Homo sapiens: one gene and its partners. The protein of the gene in region 3 interacts with the protein of the main gene of each other region in a pairwise test. Each region holds a gene or a part of one and is shown on either strand. Other genes may lie near its edges.

Region 1 (7,037 bases), on a different chromosome or scaffold from region 3:
GTATAATTTGTTGAGTTGCAGATTTTGTGATATGTAGCTGTTCTCAATCTACTGCTATGTAAAAGCCCTTCTCATTGAACAGCAGATGTATTGTGTGTTGGGGAAGATGGACTCTAACTACAGTATGCATACTTTGGAAAATTAACTTATAAGTACATTTAGGGAAGATGGAAAGTTTATGGGGACATACATGGCATGACTAGAAATCAAAACTAGCTAGTGGACAGAAGGTGAGAGTACATAAAGGTGTTACCAATTTGTCTTTTTATGAAAACTCAAAATTCAATTTATATTTTCACTTTCTTGGGAGTTAGGTGTATTACGATTGTGATATAATTATATGCCACAATTATACCATTGTATAGCATAATAATGATGTGGTAAACCAAAATAAGAGAGTTGAGAAACGTATTTTTCTTAACGACTTGGGTGTTGAACCTGTCATAAGTGGTGCTTATTTATCTGAACATCAGCATTTCTTTCATTTTAGGATTCTGGATGGAGAACAGCCATTTGCCCAGATTATTGTCCTAACATGTATGAAGAAATGGAAACATTAGCCAGTGTACTTCAGTCAGATATTGGTCAAGACATGCGTGTTCATAACAGCACATTTCTATGGTTCATCCCTTTTGTCCAGTCCCTCATGGATCTTAAGGATTTGGGTGTGGCTTACATAGCACAGGTTGTTAATCATCTGTACTCTGAAGTCAAAGAAGTCCTCAACCAAACAGATGCTGTGTGTGACAAAGTCACTGAATTTTTTCTTCTAATTTTGGTATCAGTGATTGAACTGCATAGAAATAAAAAATGTTTGCATTTGCTGTGGGTAAGTTCCCAGCAATGGGTGGAAGCCGTCGTCAAATGTGCCAAGCTTCCTACCACTGCGTTTACACGGAGTTCTGAGAAATCATCTGGAAATTGCTCCAAAGGAACAGCAATGATATCTTCACTGTCATTGCATTCCATGCCATCTAACTCTGTACAACTTGCTTATGTGCAGCTGATTAGAAGTCTCCTTAAAGAAGGTTATCAGCTTGGGCAGCAGTCTCTTTGCAAGCGATTCTGGGATAAGCTCAACTTATTCCTTAGAGGAAATTTATCTCTAGGTTGGCAGTTGACTAGTCAGGAAACCCATGAGCTACAAAGTTGCTTAAAGCAAATTATTAGAAACATAAAATTCAAAGCACCTCCATGTAACACTTTTGTGGATCTGACTTCTGCATGTAAAATCTCTCCTGCATCTTATAATAAAGAAGAAAGTGAACAAATGGGGAAGACGTCTAGAAAAGATATGCATTGTTTGGAAGCTTCCAGCCCAACATTTTCTAAAGAACCAATGAAAGTGCAAGACAGTGTATTGATCAAAGCAGATAACACTATAGAAGGTGACAATAATGAGCAAAATTATATAAAGGATGTGAAACTAGAGGACCATCTCTTAGCTGGGTCATGCTTAAAGCAGAGTAGTAAAAACATTTTTACTGAAAGAGCTGAAGATCAAATTAAAATAAGTACAAGGAAGCAGAAGTCTGTAAAAGAGATCTCTTCATATACACCAAAGGACTGTACTTCAAGAAATGGTCCAGAAAGGGGATGTGACAGAGGAATAATAGTATCAACACGTTTGTTGACTGATTCTAGCACTGATGCTTTGGAAAAAGTGTCCACATCGAATGAAGATTTCTCTTTAAAGGATGATGCTCTTGCTAAAACCTCAAAACGAAAAACTAAGGTACAGAAAGATGAAATCTGTGCAAAGTTATCACATGTAATAAAGAAGCAACACAGGAAGAGTACTTTGGTCGATAATACTATCAATTTAGATGAAAATTTGACTGTATCTAACATTGAGAGTTTCTATTCAAGGAAAGATACAGGAGTTCAGAAAGGAGATGGTTTCATACACAATCTTTCTTTAGACCCTAGTGGTGTTCTGGATGATAAGAATGGAGAACAAAAATCTCAAAACAATGTATTGCCAAAAGAGAAACAATTAAAGAATGAAGAATTAGTTATTTTCTCTTTCCATGAAAACAATTGTAAAATACAGGAATTTCATGTTGATGGTAAAGAATTGATCCCTTTTACAGAAATGACCAATGCTTCAGAGAAGAAATCATCTCCCTTTAAAGATCTTATGACTGTACCTGAATCAAGAGATGAGGAGATGAGTAATAGTACCAGTGTGATTTATTCTAACTTGACAAGAGAACAGGCCCCTGACATCAGTCCTAAATCTGACACCTTAACGGATTCTCAGATAGACAGAGACCTTCACAAATTATCTTTACTAGCTCAAGCCAGTGTTATTACGTTCCCATCCGATTCACCTCAGAACTCATCGCAGCTGCAAAGGAAAGTAAAAGAAGATAAAAGATGTTTCACAGCTAACCAAAATAATGTTGGAGATACCTCCCGTGGACAGGTTATTATTATTTCAGATTCTGATGATGATGATGATGAAAGAATCCTGAGTCTTGAGAAACTCACTAAACAGGACAAAATATGCCTTGAGAGGGAACATCCAGAGCAGCACGTTTCAACAGTTAATAGTAAGGAGGAAAAGAATCCAGTAAAGGAAGAAAAGACAGAGACTCTTTTTCAGTTTGAGGAATCTGATTCTCAGTGTTTTGAGTTTGAAAGTTCATCTGAAGTGTTTTCAGTTTGGCAAGATCATCCAGACGATAATAATTCAGTTCAAGATGGTGAGAAAAAATGTTTGGCTCCTATAGCCAATACTACAAATGGTCAGGGTTGTACAGATTATGTATCTGAAGTTGTTAAAAAAGGAGCAGAGGGCATTGAAGAACACACAAGACCACGGAGTATTTCTGTTGAAGAATTTTGTGAAATTGAAGTAAAAAAGCCTAAGAGAAAACGATCTGAAAAACCAATGGCTGAAGATCCTGTGAGGCCTTCATCTTCTGTCAGAAATGAGGGCCAGTCTGATACTAATAAGAGAGATCTTGTGGGAAATGATTTTAAAAGTATTGATAGAAGGACTTCAACTCCCAATTCACGTATTCAGAGAGCCACTACGGTTTCACAAAAGAAGTCTTCAAAGCTTTGTACTTGTACAGAACCCATCAGGAAAGTTCCAGTTTCTAAGACCCCTAAGAAAACTCATTCAGATGCCAAAAAAGGACAGAATAGAAGTTCAAATTACCTAAGTTGTAGAACAACTCCTGCTATAGTGCCGCCAAAGAAATTTCGTCAGTGTCCTGAGCCAACTTCAACAGCTGAGAAACTTGGCCTGAAAAAGGGTCCTCGTAAGGCATATGAGTTGTCCCAGCGGTCTTTGGATTATGTAGCTCAATTACGTGATCATGGCAAAACTGTTGGAGTAGTTGATACCCGAAAAAAGACTAAATTAATTTCTCCTCAGAACCTGTCTGTCAGAAATAATAAGAAACTTCTGACTAGTCAAGAACTTCAGATGCAAAGGCAGATCAGACCCAAATCACAAAAAAATAGACGAAGACTTTCTGATTGTGAAAGTACAGATGTTAAAAGAGCAGGGTCACATACAGCACAGAATTCTGACATATTTGTACCAGAATCTGATAGGTCAGATTATAATTGTACAGGAGGAACTGAGGTACTTGCCAACAGTAACAGAAAACAGTTAATAAAATGCATGCCTTCTGAACCAGAAACCATAAAAGCAAAACATGGGTCTCCAGCAACTGATGATGCTTGCCCTTTGAACCAGTGTGATTCTGTAGTGTTAAATGGAACAGTACCAACAAATGAAGTAATTGTCTCCACTTCAGAAGACCCTCTGGGTGGAGGTGATCCAACAGCACGTCATATAGAGATGGCAGCTTTGAAAGAAGGAGAGCCTGACTCCAGCAGTGATGCAGAGGAAGATAACTTATTTTTAACCCAAAATGATCCTGAAGATATGGATTTATGTTCACAAATGGAGAATGACAATTATAAACTCATTGAACTAATTCATGGAAAAGATACAGTTGAGGTTGAAGAAGATTCTGTAAGTCGGCCTCAGTTGGAATCTTTGAGTGGCACAAAGTGTAAGTACAAAGATTGTCTTGAAACCACAAAAAACCAGGGTGAATACTGCCCAAAACACTCTGAAGTGAAAGCAGCAGATGAAGATGTATTTCGTAAACCTGGCTTGCCTCCTCCTGCATCTAAACCTTTGAGACCTACCACTAAGATTTTTAGCTCAAAGAGTACTTCACGAATTGCTGGTCTTTCTAAATCTTTGGAAACTTCTTCAGCACTTTCACCGTCTCTAAAAAATAAGTCAAAGGGGATACAGTCGATTTTGAAAGTACCACAGCCAGTTCCCCTCATAGCTCAGAAGCCAGTTGGTGAAATGAAGAATTCGTGCAATGTTCTTCATCCTCAGTCTCCGAATAATTCCAACAGGCAAGGTTGCAAAGTTCCATTTGGTGAAAGCAAATATTTTCCATCTTCCTCTCCAGTAAACATTCTTTTGTCATCACAGTCTGTCTCTGACACCTTCGTTAAAGAGGTCTTAAAATGGAAATATGAAATGTTTTTGAACTTTGGTCAGTGTGGGCCCCCTGCAAGTCTTTGTCAGTCCATCTCAAGACCTGTGCCTGTCAGATTTCACAATTATGGAGATTATTTTAATGTTTTTTTCCCTTTGATGGTATTGAATACTTTTGAAACAGTAAGTATGTGTTTCATTTGTATGCCTCTCCAAACTTTTCAAGTTACCTCTTTACCTTGCTGAGTGAAAATGAGAGTATAGTTCAAAAAATCAGCCAGGCGTGGTTGCGGGCACCTGTAATCCCAGCTACTCGGGAGGCTGAGGCAGAGAATTGCTTAAACCCAGGAGGCGGAGGTTGCAGTGAGCCGAGGTCGCGCCACTGCACTCCAACCTGGGCGGCAGAGTGAGACTCTGTCTCAAAAGAAAAAACAAAAAAAAGTATAGTTAAATTAAAATTGACCGTTTCGATTTAGATACTGGTTTTAGATTTCATGTTGAACAGACATTTGTGCCAGCCACTGTTTTAGATACTGGCAATACAGAGGAAACACTTTTTTTTTTTTTTTTTTTTAGGTGGAGTTTTGCTCTTGCTGCCCAGGCTGGAGTGCAATGGTGCGATCTTTGCTCACTGCAACCTTCTGCCTCCCAGGTTCAAGTGATTCTCCTGCCTCAGCCTCCCAAGTAGCTGAGATTACAGGCCTGCGCCACCAGGCCTCACTAATTTTGTATTTTTAGTAGAGAAGGGGTTTCACCATGTTGGTCAGGCTGGTCTTGAACTTCTGATTCTGACCTCAGGTGATCCACCAGCCTCGGCCTCCCAAAGTGCTGGGATTACGGGCATGAGCCACTGTGCCTGGCTGGAAACTCTGCTCCTTGGAGCTGATAGACACAACTCAGGGTGCTAATATACCAAGTGCAGAGGTAACACAGAAGGAAATGTTTATTGACGCACGGGTAAAGGAAGACTTCTCAGAGGAGATAGTTTCCCATGTGCATTTGTTTTGTTTTTAAGTAAGAGACCTCTGCTGTAGTTTTCTTGAGGAGGTGGCAAAGGGTGAATTACATTGAACACAAAGTAATGAATCCTAAATTTCCCTACACGTCAGACTTCCCAGTTTCTTTCTTTCTTTTTTCTTTTTTCTTTTTTTTGAGACGAGTCTCGCTCTGTCGCCCAGGCTGGAGTGCAGTGGTGCAATCTCGGCTCACTGCAAGCTCTGCCTCCCGGGTTCAGGCTGTTCTCCTGCCTCAGCCTCCCGAGTAGCTGAGACTATAGGCTCTCGCCACCACGGCCGGCTAATTTTTTGTATTTTTAGTAGAGATGGGGTTTCACCATGTTAGCCAGGATGGTCTCAATCTCCTGACCTTGTGATCTGCCCGCCTTGGCCTCCCAAAGTGCTGGGATTACAGGCGTGAGCCACTGCGTCTGGCCGCCAGTTTCTTACTCATCACAGCAGCTGCTCTGTGTAACAGCCTCCCCAACCCCAGCACATCCTATTCTGGTTCTTCTCTCCTCCTTACTCAAGTAGAGTTGACAAACGATAAGATTCCCGTTAAAATTTGAGAAAAACATCAAATAATTCTTTAGTGTAAGCATTCAACTGCGTTTAGAAGGATTTTTGTGTGTGTGTTTTCAAGGCAGGTAAGAAGTGGGAGCAAATTTTTAGTTAATCCTCAAAAGAAACTTTCGTGTATACAGTAATACTCTTAAAACCAACAATGTTGAGGTAAATAGTCATGGTTCATTAGCTTGATAGATATTTGAGTGCCTAGTATGTGCCAAGTGCTCTTACAAGCATGGGAGATAAAGTGGTGAACAAGACAGGTGTGAGGTCTCTGCTCTCTGGAAGTGACCATTTGGGATTGAGATAAGGACTCTAGTATGATCTAGAACAAAGGGGACAGGGCACTTTCTGGAGAGATCAGATAACCTCTATGAGCAGATGATATTTACACTGAGACCCAAGTGACTAGGAGTTAACTGTGGGAAGTATGTTACAGGCAGAGTGGAGTGCAAAGACAGTCTGGTAACAAGATTGGAGTGTTGGGGAAGGAAGTGTAATGTACAAAGGGACAAGTCTACTACAAAAGAAGAGAAGTGAGTTGTTAACACTGTACATGGCAAGATAAATGGCTTTTATAAAGCTTGAGTGAACGTATCTTCATCAATGTACTTTATGTTAAATCTTTTGATCAATTCGTACCTCAAATTTTAGCCATTTTTGAGAGTTGCTTTATTATTTTTTTTTCCTAAGGTACTTTTGTTTTAGCAGGAGTTGCTTTATTTTCGCTGGAAAGCACTAAATTGCTTAGAAGCCATTCATAACCCTATGAAGGGTAGACACTTACTTTCATTTCCTGAGTTAAAAGATATTTATTAAGATTTATTTCCTTCAGGACATTTTTGTAGTCTCAGCTTTTTAAAAACAGAATGAGCACAAGTTCCATTTGTACATATACAGAGTTTAAAATAGTCAAAGATTTCTATCTGGCCCATTATAAAGAACATCAGGCACCCCTCATCCCCTCAAGTAACTATTTTCTATTCTTAATG
Region 2 (7,037 bases), on a different chromosome or scaffold from region 3:
CTTATGAAGAAGGGGAAGAGACAGCAGAGATGCTTGTGTGTGGAAGGAAGGCCGCATGGGGGAGCGGTGAGGAGGTGGCCATCTGCAAGCCATGGAGAAAGGCCTCAGGAGAAGCTAAACCCTGATTTTGGACTTCCAGTCTCCAGAACTGTGAGAAAATAAACTTTTGTTGTATAAGCCACCCTGTCTGTGGTATTTTGTTATGGCAGCCTGAGCAGACTAACACAGAATGTAAGTTCTTACCGCTGCCTCTGGGAAGGGCAACTCCTGACAGTGCCTCCAACACGGAGCTCTTGCCCGAGCTCTGGTCCCCGATGACGGCGATGGCTGGCAGGGCCAGGTCCTGCTCCACACCTAGAGCCCGCAGGGAGTCAATGAGGTCGATGCAGGGGCGCACCTTCTCCTCATACTGGCTGCACAGGTTGTTCTCAGCCACCTGGAGGAAACAAAAATGGAGAATTCTTCATGGCCTGCAAATCATGCTCATGATATGGTTTGGTTCTGTGTCCCTACCCAAATCTCATCTCGAATTGTAATCCCCATAATCCCTACGTGTCAAGGGAGAGACCAGGTGGAGGTAATTGGATTGTGGGGGAGGTTTCCCCCATGCTGTTCTCATGATAGTGAGTTTTCATGAGGTCTGATGGTTTTATAAGTGTTTGGCAAGTTCCTCCTTCAGTCATTCTCTCTCCTGCCACCTTGTGAAGAGATGCCTTCCTCCATGATTGTAAGTTTCCTGAGGCCTCCCCAGCCATGTGGACTGTGAGTCAATTAAACCTCTTTTCTTTATAAATTACCTAGTTTCAGGCAGTTCTTTATAGCAGTGTGAGAATGAACCAATACACTCCATTAAAGACGGCCAACTTCAATAAGTCTAATACACAGGTTACTGGAATCCCCAAAAGAGAATGGAAGAGAGACAGAAAAAAATATTTGAAGAAATAATACATACAATTCCCTCAAACTTAATGAAAACCATAAACCCAAAGATCCCAGAAACTCAACAGACATTAAGCACAGCAAACATAAACATCATCAAGCCATAAGAGGGTCAAATTGCTCAAAACCAGTAATAAAGAGAAAATGTTAGGAGCAGCCAGAGAATGATACAGTGTGAGCAGAGGGACACAAATGAGAAATCTGCTGTCAATCTTATCAGAAGCAATAACAAGCGAGAAGACAGTGAAGCAGTATTTTTAAAGTACTGAAAAACACCATCAATCTAGAATTCTATACCCAGCAAAAATAACTTTTAAAAATGAAGGCAAAACAAAGACTTTTTTAGCCATTCAAAAGCTTAACTAATTCATTACCAGCAGACCTGCACTACAGGAAATGTTAAAGAAGTTCTTTAGGTAGAAGGAAAATGATACTGAATGGAAATCTGGATCTATACAAAGGAGTCTATACTAGAAGGGGTAACTACTACACTTTTTTGTATTCCTTTGCTATCTTTATTTAAAAGATAATTGAATGTTTGAACATCAATAATAACAATGTATTGTGGGGTTTATGATGTATGTAAAAGATGCATGATAGAAATAGTATGAAGGCTCAGAGCAGAGAGATGGAAATACACTATTCTAAGGTTCTCGCACTATACATGAAGTGACAGACTATCACTTGAAGGTTGACTTATTAAGTTAAAGATATATACTAAAAACACCAAGAGTTATACTTAATAAGACAACAAAGGAGACATGATGGAATCATAAAAAATAATCCAAGAGAAGGCAGAAAAAGACGAAAGGGGGAACGAAGAACAGACGGGACAAATAGAAAACAAATAGCAAGATGATATTCTCAAATCTAATTATATTACCAGTCACATTAAATAGAAATGATCTAAATATTCTTAGTCAAAATGACTTTGAAAAAGAAGAACAAAGTCAGAGGACTAGCATTACCTAATTTCCATAATTACTATAAAACTAAAGTAATCAAAATAGTGAAGTACTTGCATAAAAACAGAGAAAGCAGCAGACTTCACACTCGGTCCTGCCTACCTACCAGCAGCTGGGTGCAATTTTCCTAAAGTGGGCTGATTGAGGTTCAGGAAGAAAATATGAGAAAATCATTTTGTCTTTTACCTCTTTCTAATGACTATTTTTGTGCATGCTTCATCATAGACAGACGTTTTTACTAGAATAGCTTCTTTATAACAGGACAAGAAGCTATTCATATTTGGGGTTAGAAGATTGTTTGTTGCAGGGGCTACCCTACACATTGTAGGAGGTTTAGCCAAATACCTGGCCTCTATTCACTATTCACCCTGAGTTGTGACAACCAAGATGTCTCTAGACCTGGCCACAAGTTCCAGGGAGCAAAATGGGCCCTGACTGAGAAAGAACCACAGCCTTACCAAATGCATGAATACAGTTGGTAGCCTCGGTCTTAGTTCACCTTATAACTTTTTGTTTGTTTTCATTTATTTATACTATCTATTTACAAAAGTGTGTCAAACATAATAAAGCAAATATGCATGTACCAACCACTTGGGTTAAGAACACAAACACTCCCAGTACTTAGGACATTGCACACACCTCCCTGGGTCAACTCCTTCACCTCCAGAGGGTCCCTCTATCCTGAGGCTTGCAATCATCACATCCTTGCTTTTCTTTATAGTTTTGCCACCTATATGTTTTTCCCACAATGGTATATTGCCTATTGCTGCCTGTTGGGGAATTTTACGTAAGTGGAATCATTTTGTATATTTCCTGTAACTTGATTCTTTGGTTCAACGTTGTTCATTTGATGCAGCCATTTTGATACCTGGAACTCTAGTTCATTCCTCTTTACTACTGTATAGAATTCTGCTACATGAACATACCACACTCCCAGTATCCATTCCACCATGACAGGCACGTAGACAGGGTCTGAGTTTTGCTGTTATAAACAGTGCTGCTATGCATGTGGCTCCCAGGGGGATGTGCAAGGGTTTACACATGGTCCTCAAACTCCAGCACACAGCAGAATCACCTGGAGAGCCTGGTAAAGCACAGGGGGTGGGCCCTGCCCCAGAGTGTCCAATTCACCAGGTCTAAGAGTGGGAGGAGGGGCTGGTCATTTGCATTTCAGTCAACTTCCCAGGTGATGCTAATGGGCTGGGCTGGGGGCCACACTTTGAGAACCACAGTCTATCCCCAGAAGTGGAACTGCCAGATCACGAGACACACTCTGTTCTCCTTGACTGGAAAAGGCCAAGCTGCTTCCAAAGCACGCAAGTATGAGTGGGTGAGAGTTCCTCCTGCCCCATACCCTGACATAATTACATCTCTTACAGCCAGACAAGAGACGCACCAGGGACGGAAATGCAGAAAAATGTAAACGGTGGTATCAGGGTGGTGGAAAGGTGGTGGTCCTCTGTATTTTTCTAAACGCTTCAATGTTTTTTGAATATTGTTTGAAAAATTGTTTAACATTGCCTAGGAAAACAGAGCCAGCCTGAAACAGACCAGTGATCCACGGTAATAAGAAACTGAGCACTCTGAGTACCTGGACACTCCCTGCACTTTGCTCTCAGCCATATAAAGCAAAGACCATTATTCTCATTTTAGATATGGAAAACCAGGCTTATAACAGGAGGAATAACTACCCACAATCACACAGCTGAGAGTGTCAGCGTCGGGACCAACTGAGGTTGGACTGATTCCAGGGGCCATGATTGGTTCCCACCAAAAATATGTCTTGATTCTGGGCAAAAAATTCACCACGTGGCTTCCCTACAAAGATAATATCTTAATGATGCCCCAGGGTTTGTAGCTTGAGACTGAATCATGATGTGGGCAGGAAAAACAAACCTAGTGCTCCTTGAACCCAGGGCCTGGGCCAGTTCCTTCTAGTATAGATGAGCTGAACCCATCGACAGCTCAGCCAGTGTCCCCAACCCCAGCAGCACCTCCACCCACGGTGAGCTAAGGCAACGAGTCTATACATGGTTGTCAGCTGGCAAGTAGAGGGTCAGGATCTGCGTCCTGGCACAGGAGAGGCGAGAGAGCAGGCATATCTGGGCAGCAGTAGCACCGCTGTAGAAAAGGGCAGCCTCGAATGGGCATGGCTCATGTCACATGGATAGCGACTTTCAGAGAGCAACTTACCGAGCCTGGATTTTTCTGGGCCACAGTAGCATCTCCATTCAGTAATAGAGGGTGGGATGCAGCAGCTGGATCAGCTTTTGCGATGTCCACTTCGGAAACAACCATCTTCCTTCTTTGCAAAGTAAGCTTAAAATAAAGCAGATGCCTATTGAACAGATAAGCAGCTGGGTGCATTCAACCATGGAACCAAACCCACCACCAGAACGGAAGGCCCCTGGAGGTGGGGACTCTGACTAGTTGTTCATGGTGATGTCCCCAGAGCGTAGAAGAGTGCCTGGGACACAGTGTGTGCTCACTGGCTTTTTATTCACGGAAAGAGAAACAGAGTGACCCAAAGAAGCCAAGGTCAGATAAAGACAAACGCTGCCTCCCTGCTCAAGGCGCTTCAAGAATATCCCTCCAGGCCGGGCCCCGGGGCTCACGCCTGTAATCTCAGCACTTTGGGAGGCTGAGGCAGGTAGATCATGAGGTCAGGAGTTCAATACCACCCTGGCCAAGATGGTAAAACTTGTCTCTACTAAAAATACAAAAAAATTAGCCAGGCATGGTGGCGGGCACCTGTAATCCCAACTACTCAGGAGGCTGAGGCAAAGAATTGCTTGAACCTGGCAGGCAGAGGATGCAGTCAGCTGAGATCACGCCACTGCACCCCAGTCTGGGCAACAGAGCAAGACTCTGTCTCAAAAAAAAAAAATAGAATATGCCTCTGTTCCCCAAAATATTTTCTAAAACTATCTCCTGTCATAATTTTAGGTTGAACTTCAAAAACGTTTTCAGTATAAATTTGAATAGTTGCAAAGTATACAACTTCTGATGCAGTTGTAATACAATTAAAAAGTTTACATTTAAAGGCTGGGCACAGTAGCTCACGCCTGTATCCCACCCAGCACTTTGGGAGACCAAGGTGAGTGGATCACCTGAGGTCAGGAGTTCGAAGCGAGCTTGGCCAACATAGTGAAACCCCATCTCTACTAAATATACAAAAATTAGCTGGAAGTGGTGGTGTGTGTTTGTAGTCCCAGCTACTTGGGAGGCTGAGGCAGGAGAATCACTTGAACCTGGGAGGTGAAGGTTGCAGTGAGCCGAGATCGCACCACTGCACTCCAGCCTGGGCGACAGAGCGAGACCCCGTCTTAAAAACAACAACAAACAAAAACTTTACATTTAAAAATAAAATTGTTATAGAACTGTTTCCAATGTAGCCAAGAGAATCCAAATATTACGGTAATTTGATACCCAAACCTTTAGTTTAAAAAACACGTGAGCTCTAAATCTTTTATGCTCTTTCTTTTGATCATCAATTTCATATTGTCATTCTTTTACTCCCACAAATGGGGGAAATGAAATGTCATTCATTTTACTCTTGAAAGCATGTAACTGACTGCCTTATACTTGTCTGCATTACAAATACACACGTATGTATTTGAAATTCATTTTTAAAATGTTGTAGGACAAGTGCCTAAATATGAAATTTTACAGTGTCTAATAATCTTGGATAAAAGTAACTGAAAATCTTTCTCCTATGACTCAAAATAAATGTTACAGAAAATAGCATGCACCAACTTACCTCTAATATACGTTCCTTCAAATAAAAGTAATGTCAACAAGTTAAATGGTATCACAGAGCTGTTCTCCTGCACCTCCTTGAAATCAAGCAAAGTGTACAAGTAAGACCCAAACCCGCGGAACACCCGAGAGTACCCACCCACCCAGTCCCATTCCCAAGTCTGAGAACCGGGCAAGTGCAGGAGGGGTGTGCTCTGAAGCCGATTCTGACTTCCCAGAATCCTTTTCCTATGTTTTGACTATTTTAACTATTTTAACAGATGAATAAAGCACAGAGCTTTGCTGCAAATCTGCTGCCTGGATCAATAATATGTAAGGATGCTCTCCTTGCTTCCCCTCGCAGGAATCTCCCCCGAGAGCCATGTGATCTTTGTCAGTACCATGAGGGTTGAAGGGACAGGTTGTTAAAACAAAACTCATCACCCCTGCCTGTCACCCTGCTCTGTAACATATCTAGCTGCACACCTGAGCCAATGCCATTTCTCCATCACACTGGAGTTCACAGAAACGCCCATGTCAGGAAGGTTGGGAAGTGCTGCCATGGGTTCATGCTGCCTTGGCTAAAGAACACGTCCCCAACACCAATACTTAAAACTATCCTTTTCTGTCTCCCTTCCCCGGGTTTATACACTTCCAGGGCAGGCATCCTTGCTCGATTTGGAAGGGAAGAAAGGGATGTATTTCTTTCTTTTTTTTTTTTTTTTTGAGACAGTCTCGCTTTGTCACCAGGCTGGAGAGCAGTGGCGCAATCTTGGCTCACTGCAACCTCCACCTCCCGGGTTCAAGCGATTATCCTGCCTCAGGCTCCCAAGTAGCTGGGACTACAGGTGCACGCCACCAGACCCGGCTAATTTTTTGTATTTATTTAGTAGAGATGGGGTCTCACAGTGTTAGCCAGGATGGTCTCAATTTCCTGACCTCGTAATCTGCCCACCTCTTTTGTCAGGTAGGATTGGGATGGTTATAAAAGGTAATCCATTGTAAACGGTACTTATGGAGTCTGACAATCTGGGAATTTATTCCCTAAAACTCCCATGCCTTTGGAAATACCTCATGTGCCCAGGGCATCCCAGGCTCGATATCAAAGACCACCACTTCATCTGCCTCTCAGGAGTACCAGTCTTCTGGGCTATGGTTGCCTCAGTTGGCCTTTCTGCAGCCAGATAAGGAGCATCATTGAGACCAGGACTTGTACCACATGACCACAGGTTCCACTCAATCAGCTGAAACAGGACTTGGTGAGTAGATTCCCTTCCCTAATTTGCTTCATAAAATGAGATTCTCTGAAAGCTAAACCTTATGGGTTTTGTCTGTAAACCATAAACGTTTGTACCTTTCCCTGATCATTCGGAACATCAGTTTGGATTTCAGGGG
Region 3 (7,000 bases):
TGACCAACATGGCAAAACCCCGCCTCTACTAAAAATATAAAAATTAGCCGGGCACAGTGGCATGCACCTGAAGTCCCAGATACTTGGGAGGCTGAGGCAGGAGAACTGTTTGAGCCTGGAAGGTGGAGGTTTAAGTGAGCTGAGATTGTACCACTGCACTCCAGCCTGGGTGACAGAGCAAGATTCTGTCTCAAAAGAAAAAAAAAATGGTGATTAGGTCAAGAGGAGGGCTCTGCCTTCAGGAGTGGGTTAATGCTATTATCACAGGAGAGGGTTCCTGATAACACGATGAGTGGATGAGTTCAACTCCCTTTCCTATCTCTCTGTCACAAGTGCTGCCTCACTGTGTGATTCCTTCTGCCATTTTATGACGCAGCAAGAAGCCCCTCATCAGATGTAGCCCCTCCATCTTGGACTTCCCAGGCTCCAGAAGTAGGAGCCAAAAAAACCTCTACTGTTTATTAATTGCCCAGTCTATGGCATTCTGAAACAGCAACACAAAATAGATTCAGTCACTAAAGAGAAACATGAAATGGATATTTTGTAAACATGTGTTGAATTTATGAAGGAAAAAACCTCTAAACCTCTCTTCTGAACACGATTTAAATTTTGTTCAAAGTATTCTGTTCAAAGGAAACAATGTGGGCTTTCAAAGAAAACAATTAAAAAAAATACTTCTCATGGCCTTAAACCACTATCTCATGGTGTTGCTGTTAGCATAAAACCAGAGAAGTAAACACATATTTGATGAAACTCAAGTTACAGCAAATGCCAAATAATGCCATTAAATAGGCAGGAGAAGAAAAACAGTAGAAAATAAAATGGAAAAGTTTGCTTTACTATTTGGAGAGGAAAGTCATGTTTTCTTTTTCTTTTTCTTTTTTTTTTTTTTTTTTTGAGACGGAGTCTCGCCCTGTCGCCCAGGCTGGAGTGTGGTGGCGCGATCTTGGCTCACTGCAAGCTCCGCCTCCCGGGTTCACGCCATTCTCCTGCCTCAGCCTCCCGAGTAGCTGGGACTACAGGCGCCCCCACCACCACACCCAGCTAATTTTTTTTTATATTTTTAGTAGAGACAGGGTTTCACCGTGTTAGCCAGGATGGTCTCAATCTCCTGACCTCGCGATCCACCCGCCTCAGCCTCCCAAAGTGCTGGGATTATAGGCATGAGCCACCGCGCCCAGCGAAAGTCATGTTTTCTACTGCAAGATACTATACTAATCAGTTTTCATTCTCTATGATATTCATTGAAAGAGAACAGGAAGCTCAGAAAGCAGATTAAAAAGGGAAATGAGGCCAGGCACGGTGGCTTATGTCTGTAATCCTAGTGCTTTGGGAGGGCAAGGCGGGAGGATCACTTGAGGCCAGGAATTCAAGAGTGGCCGGGGCAATATAGCAAGATCGCCACCTCCACAAAAAAATTTTAAAACATTAGCTGGGCATGGTGGTACATGCTGACAGCCCCAGCTGCTCAGGAGGGTGAGGCAGGAGGATTGCCTGAGTCTAGGAGTTCAAGGTTACAGTGAGCGATGATCACACTGCTGCACCCCAGCCTGGGGGACAGAACGAGACTCTGCCTCAATAACAACAACAACAACAACAAAAGAGGGCAAATGAGTACACTTTAAATGGATGAACTATGTAGTATGTAAATCATATCTCAATAAAATGGTTAACAGGAAAAAAAAAAGGCAAACTAAAGCATTTCCTGGATAAGCTTAAATGGCCTGGGGAAACAAAGGATAACAGACCACCCCCAGCGGCTGGGCTAAATGTTGGCAGCTCAAGATAAACAGAAGCCCAATCCCAATGGACAAACCACTGGAGAGGCATTTCCACTTCCAGCTATCTTTAAGGGTAGGTTGGTAAAGCAAAGATTAAGAATGAGTGAGAAAGAGATTAACCTGTATCATAAGAGTTTTATTTCTTTTATTGTTCACAAATTAAATAAAAATAAAGTTATGACTTAGTAAACTACAATACATTAACATGAGAAAATACTATGCAGCTAAAAAATTAAGTTTATTTATCTTATGTAAAAGAACAGGAAAGAGTTTATATATATTTTAAAACAGAAAAGAATACAAAATAGTATAACTAAGGCTACACATAAGGGAAAATATGTAGACAGGGACTAGAAGTTAAGATGTAGAACTATGCTTAGAAGCATACCTGGCACAAAGTAAAATGTCCTTTTTTTCCATAGTTTTATTTAATATTATTAGTAGCTCTATGCAATAAATTGTTAAAATATTGGTTGTTCAACATTCATGATTTAAATATTCTAATGATGAGTTGGATATGGCTAGGTTAGATCTGGAAGTCTTGAGCAGTGGTCCTATGGCAATTCTAACTAAAGAAACTGCAAGTTCTGACTGTGGTCAGCGGCAGCTTCCCGAGATTCTAATAGCACCTTGATTTAGCTTGAATATATAGAAACAAAGGCATATGGTGACAATAAATGAGCGAGCAAAAGAATGCATGAGATGTGGCTGGGTGCAGTGGCTCACGCCTGTAATCTCGGCGCTTTGGGAGGTCAAGGCGGGCGGATCACCTGAGGTCAGGAGTTCAAGACCAGCCCGACCAACATGCAGAAACCCTGTCTCTACTAAAAACACAAAATTAGCTGGGTGTGGTGGCGCATGCCTGTAATCCCAGCTAGTTCAGGATGCTGAGGTAGGAGAATCGCTTGAACCCAGGAGGTGGAGGTTGTGGTGAGCCGAGATGATGCCATTGCACTCCAGCCTGGACAACAAGAGCGAAACTCCGTCTCAAAAAAAAAAAAAAATGTATGAAACGTGTTTTTACTCTGTCACATGGTCAGGAAGGCAATCTACCTACCACTCTCCCATGTTTCTTACTACTACTCTCAGAATTTCACATGTCCCATTTTGAGCACTTCATGAAAATGCAAACTGAAAATACATAAATTAGGGAGACACCGTTCACATTACAACAGGATTCTTTACTTTAAAAAAATTTTTCAAAACTTTTAGTATAGTCGGAGGTCATTAATCATCTTCAGAAATTCTGGGGTTCAGAAGCTGAAAATCAAAATTCTAGAAATCACAGTTGGCTGAATAAAAAGTGAAAAATAAAGAGGAAAAATAATCTGAACTTTTATATTAGGTATATCAAGTTTGAAAGAAACCTAGAAACTTATCTATAATAATGAAATATCCCTTAATCTTTCTAAAAATGGACTGTGGCATTTTACAAAAAGTTAAATTAGAACAGGTAAAGGAAAATAAACCTATGGAAAATCAAATGTGTTAGTTCTGAGGAATACACTATCTTCGAGCATTAAACTTAGTTTGTTTACCTCAACAGCTGCCTAAAAGCCAGAATAAAAGATGGTGGATTACAACATTCTTATTCCTTGGCAGAAGCAAGCATTACATCTACACAAAAATCTTCATAAACTTGAATGCTAGTTAACTAAACAGTTCTGGATAACTGGCCGGAAACAGTGGCTCACGCCTGTAATCCCAGCACTTTGGGAGGCCGAGGGGGTTGGATCACGAGGTTAGGAGTTCGAGACCGGCCTGGCCAACATGGTGAAACCCCATCTCTACTAAAAATACAAAACTTAGTCAGGCGTCGTGGCATGCGCCTGTAATCCTAAATACAGGGAAGGCTGAGGCAGGAGAATTGCTTGAACTAGGGAGGCGGAGGCTGCAGTAAGCCAAGATCGTACCACTGTACTCCAGCCTGGGCGACAGAGCAAGACTCTGTCTAAAAAAAAAAGGGGGGTTCTGGATAATTTTATCTTCTATTATAATAACAACTAAATGTATAAGCAGCATAAACCTGTTTCAACCTCAGTGTGAGGATATTTCTTAAATACATTTGTGTATGCATAATGATCGTTGCTACTTTATAATCCAGAACTCTGCAATGTTTCTGAGCAATAACTCTATGAGAAGGACAGTAACAAAGAGCATTTAGTCATTTATCCTCTCGGGGTATCCATTCCCTCACCATGAAAATGAGGAATTAGATTCAGTGATTTCTACATATGTGGACAATGTATAGGAAATAGGACTAGATCTGTCTAGACTCAAAACAGACCCCAAAGACTTTCTACTTTGTATAACTTCCTGATGTTAAACTTACAAGCACGATTGATTTTATTTCTCTTCGTTCACTTTTCTTCCCCCATCATTTATCTTAGTCTCAAATATTCTTCACTACCTCTCACTCTCCCTCATTTTCCTGTTTACCCCTTTTTCTCTGCTAGCCTCCATTTGCACTTACCTTCTGTTGAACTGCAGCGCTCATAGATTGTTTTTCTGTTGTTTTTTGTTTGTTTGGTTTTTGAGACAGAGTCTCGCTCTGTCACCCAGGCTGGAGTGCAATGGCATGATCTCGGCTCACTGCAACCTCTGCCTCCTGGGTTCAAGTGATTCTCCTGCCTCAGCCTCCTGAGTAGCTGGGATTACAGGCACCTACACCGGGCTAATTTTTGTATTTTTAGTAGAGACAGGGTTTCACCATGTTGGTCAGGCTGGTGTCAAACTCCTGACCTCACGATCTGCCCGCCTTAGCTTCCCCAAAGTGCTGGGATTACAGGTGTGAGCCACTGTGTCCGGCTAGATTGTTTTCTTATAGCTGCCTGGAACTGATGAATTGTGTACAGTCATCCTTTAGTTACTAATCAATCTTTCTAAAAATGGACTGTGGTATGTACCTAGTTTTGCATACATGGGGGACTGGTTGTAGAACCCCTCACAGACACCAATATCTAAGGATGCTCAAGTCGCTTGATATAAAATGGCATAGTATTTGTATATAACCTATGCAGATCCTCCCATATACTTTAGATAATCTTTACATTATTTATAATACCTAATACAATGTAAATGCTATGTAAGTAGCTGTCATCCTGCATTCTTTTTATCTGTATCATTTTTTAATGTTGTTATTTGTCTTTTTTTTTCCCAAATAATTTCAATCCACAGTTGGTTGAATTCTTAGATGCAGAATCCATAGATATGGAAGGTCGACTATATTTTCTGATAGTCTTTCTCAAAACACACATACACACACTCCACGCATAGAGTTCATTAAGAAGTCCAGTTAATTCAGATTTGCTATTTTTTTATTTTTTTAATTATTTTTTTTTTAAGAGATGGGGTCTCACTCTGTCACCCATGCTGGAGTGCAGTGGCATGATCATAGTTGGCTGCAGCCTCCAACTCCTGGGCTCAAGTGATCCTCCTGCCTCAGCCTCCTGAGTAGCTAGGACTACAGGCACACACCACCATGCCTAGCTAGATTTGCTGTATTTCAAAAAACTAAATTTTTAAGGTTTTCTCTAAAATTAATGACTCCAACTTCTTTTATCTTCAATTATTTTACACTATTTTAGGGATTTAAGTTGCTTTTTTCTTTTTTAAGAGACAGGGTCTGGCTGCCACCCAGGCTGGAGTGCAGTGGTGCTATCATAGCTCACAGTAACCACACACACCTGGGCTCAGACAATCCTCTCACCTCAGTCTCCTGAGCAGCTGGGACTACAGGTACATGCATCTATGCCTGGCTAAATTTTAAATTTTTTGTAGAGATGGGGCTTCACTATGTTGCCCAGGCTAGTCTTGAACTTCTGGTCTCAAGTGATCCTCCCACCTTGGCCTCCCAAAGTGCTGGGATTACAGGTGTGAGCCACTGCACCCAGCCTAAGTTGCTATTTTCTAAATACATTTTATTATCTTCACTTAAAAAAAGCATATACCATACTGAATACTTACAAAATAATGAACAAGGCTAAATAATCCAAATGCTCAACTAAAGGGGTCTGGTTATGTAAATTATGATGCGATAGCACCATAACTATTATTCCATTTGGTATTGCTAGATGGAGGTCTGTGTATTCACCATATGTACAGTCTACTAGAAACTGTAAATATAAAGATTTAGAATAAGCCAGTCCTCATACAGTATTCCTCAAATAGTATAATTCCTCATGTAGTATGATTTCAAATTTCTTCATTTTTTGGTGCTCGGAATCAAACAAAACTCCAGATAAAGCCTCATCAGCCCGAAAATGAGCAGGGCTACCAACTTGCTCATTTTGGAGACAAACTGCAGAACCCATGACACTAGCTATACTGGCACCCACATTATACTGTTGATTCACACTGAGTTTCCCATCAACGAACACTGTCCTTGTATCACTTCTCCCTCATTCCACACTTTATCACTGATTTTTCTGCAGCTGAGTATAGGATTGTGCCTCTTCTTTGTAAAAGATGATTCACCATTCCAGTCAGTCAGGATTTATCTGGACTCTGATTAAATCAATCAGTTAATTCCACAAATTCCTCCCAGGCTTGGGTCACTCACAAATTTTATCACCATGCCATCAGCACCCTGACGTTAAGGTACTGAAAGGAACAAAGTTAGGGATAGAGATACATGGCATATAAGTACAGACCTCTCTTCAGTCTGCCTGATTCTTTCAGTAGTAAGTCAGGTTTTTATTTCACCTAACTGGATTGCCATCAGTCCATCTCCATCTTGCTCACTAAGAGAGGCAGTAAAGCACATTTGCTAGCTAGAGAAGCAGACTTTGAAGCTAGGTCATCTGGATTCAAATTTCAGCTCTCCCATTTACTAGCTCTGTGGGCAAGTTCCTTAATCTCTTTATGCCCATGCTTCCACATCTGTAAAATGGGAATAGTACCTAATAATTGGTTAGGAGCATTAAGCTAGTTGGCCTATGTAAAACATCCAAAACAGTACCTGGTATATAATAAATTTGCTATAATAATGACTACTGTAGGTACCTCCTGCCAGCATCCTTCTGATGCTGCCTGTCTAGTATAGGTCTTGCTTTCTTTCTGAACTGATACTGTAGTGTAGTGGTCACTAGTTATGCCACCATGCCCAGCTAATTTTGTATTTTTAGTAGAGACGGGGTTTCACCATATTGGCCAGGCTGGTCTTGAACTCCTGACTTCAGGTGATCCACTTGCCTTGGCCTCCCAAAGTGCTGGGATTA

What was found. The genes of interacting proteins can lie anywhere in the genome.
Region 1: the proteins of TDG (region 3) and SETX interact in a two-hybrid assay, tested with the Homo sapiens proteins (one study listed by BioGRID and IntAct).
Region 2: the proteins of TDG (region 3) and MX1 interact in a two-hybrid assay, tested with the Homo sapiens proteins (one study listed by BioGRID).

Annotation. Positions count from the first base shown.
Region 1 is NC_000009.12:132,323,953-132,330,989, reverse strand, and holds part of SETX (probable helicase senataxin), read left to right. Parts: intron 1-490; coding exon 491-4,666; intron 4,667-7,037. UniProt on the Homo sapiens protein: Probable RNA/DNA helicase involved in diverse aspects of RNA metabolism and genomic integrity.
Region 2 is NC_000021.9:41,429,236-41,436,272, reverse strand, and holds part of MX1 (interferon-induced GTP-binding protein Mx1), read right to left. Parts: intron 5,741-7,037; 5' UTR 5,665-5,740; intron 4,243-5,664; exon of another isoform or gene 4,224-4,242; 5' UTR 4,203-4,223; coding exon 4,098-4,202; intron 437-4,097; coding exon 244-436; intron 1-243.
Region 3 is NC_000012.12:103,968,872-103,975,871, reverse strand, and holds part of TDG (G/T mismatch-specific thymine DNA glycosylase), read right to left. Parts: intron 3,513-7,000; exon of another isoform or gene 2,850-3,512; coding exon of another isoform or gene 2,839-2,849; intron 1-2,838. UniProt on the Homo sapiens protein: DNA glycosylase that plays a key role in active DNA demethylation: specifically recognizes and binds 5-formylcytosine (5fC) and 5-carboxylcytosine (5caC) in the context of CpG sites and mediates their excision through base-excision repair (BER) to install an unmethylated cytosine.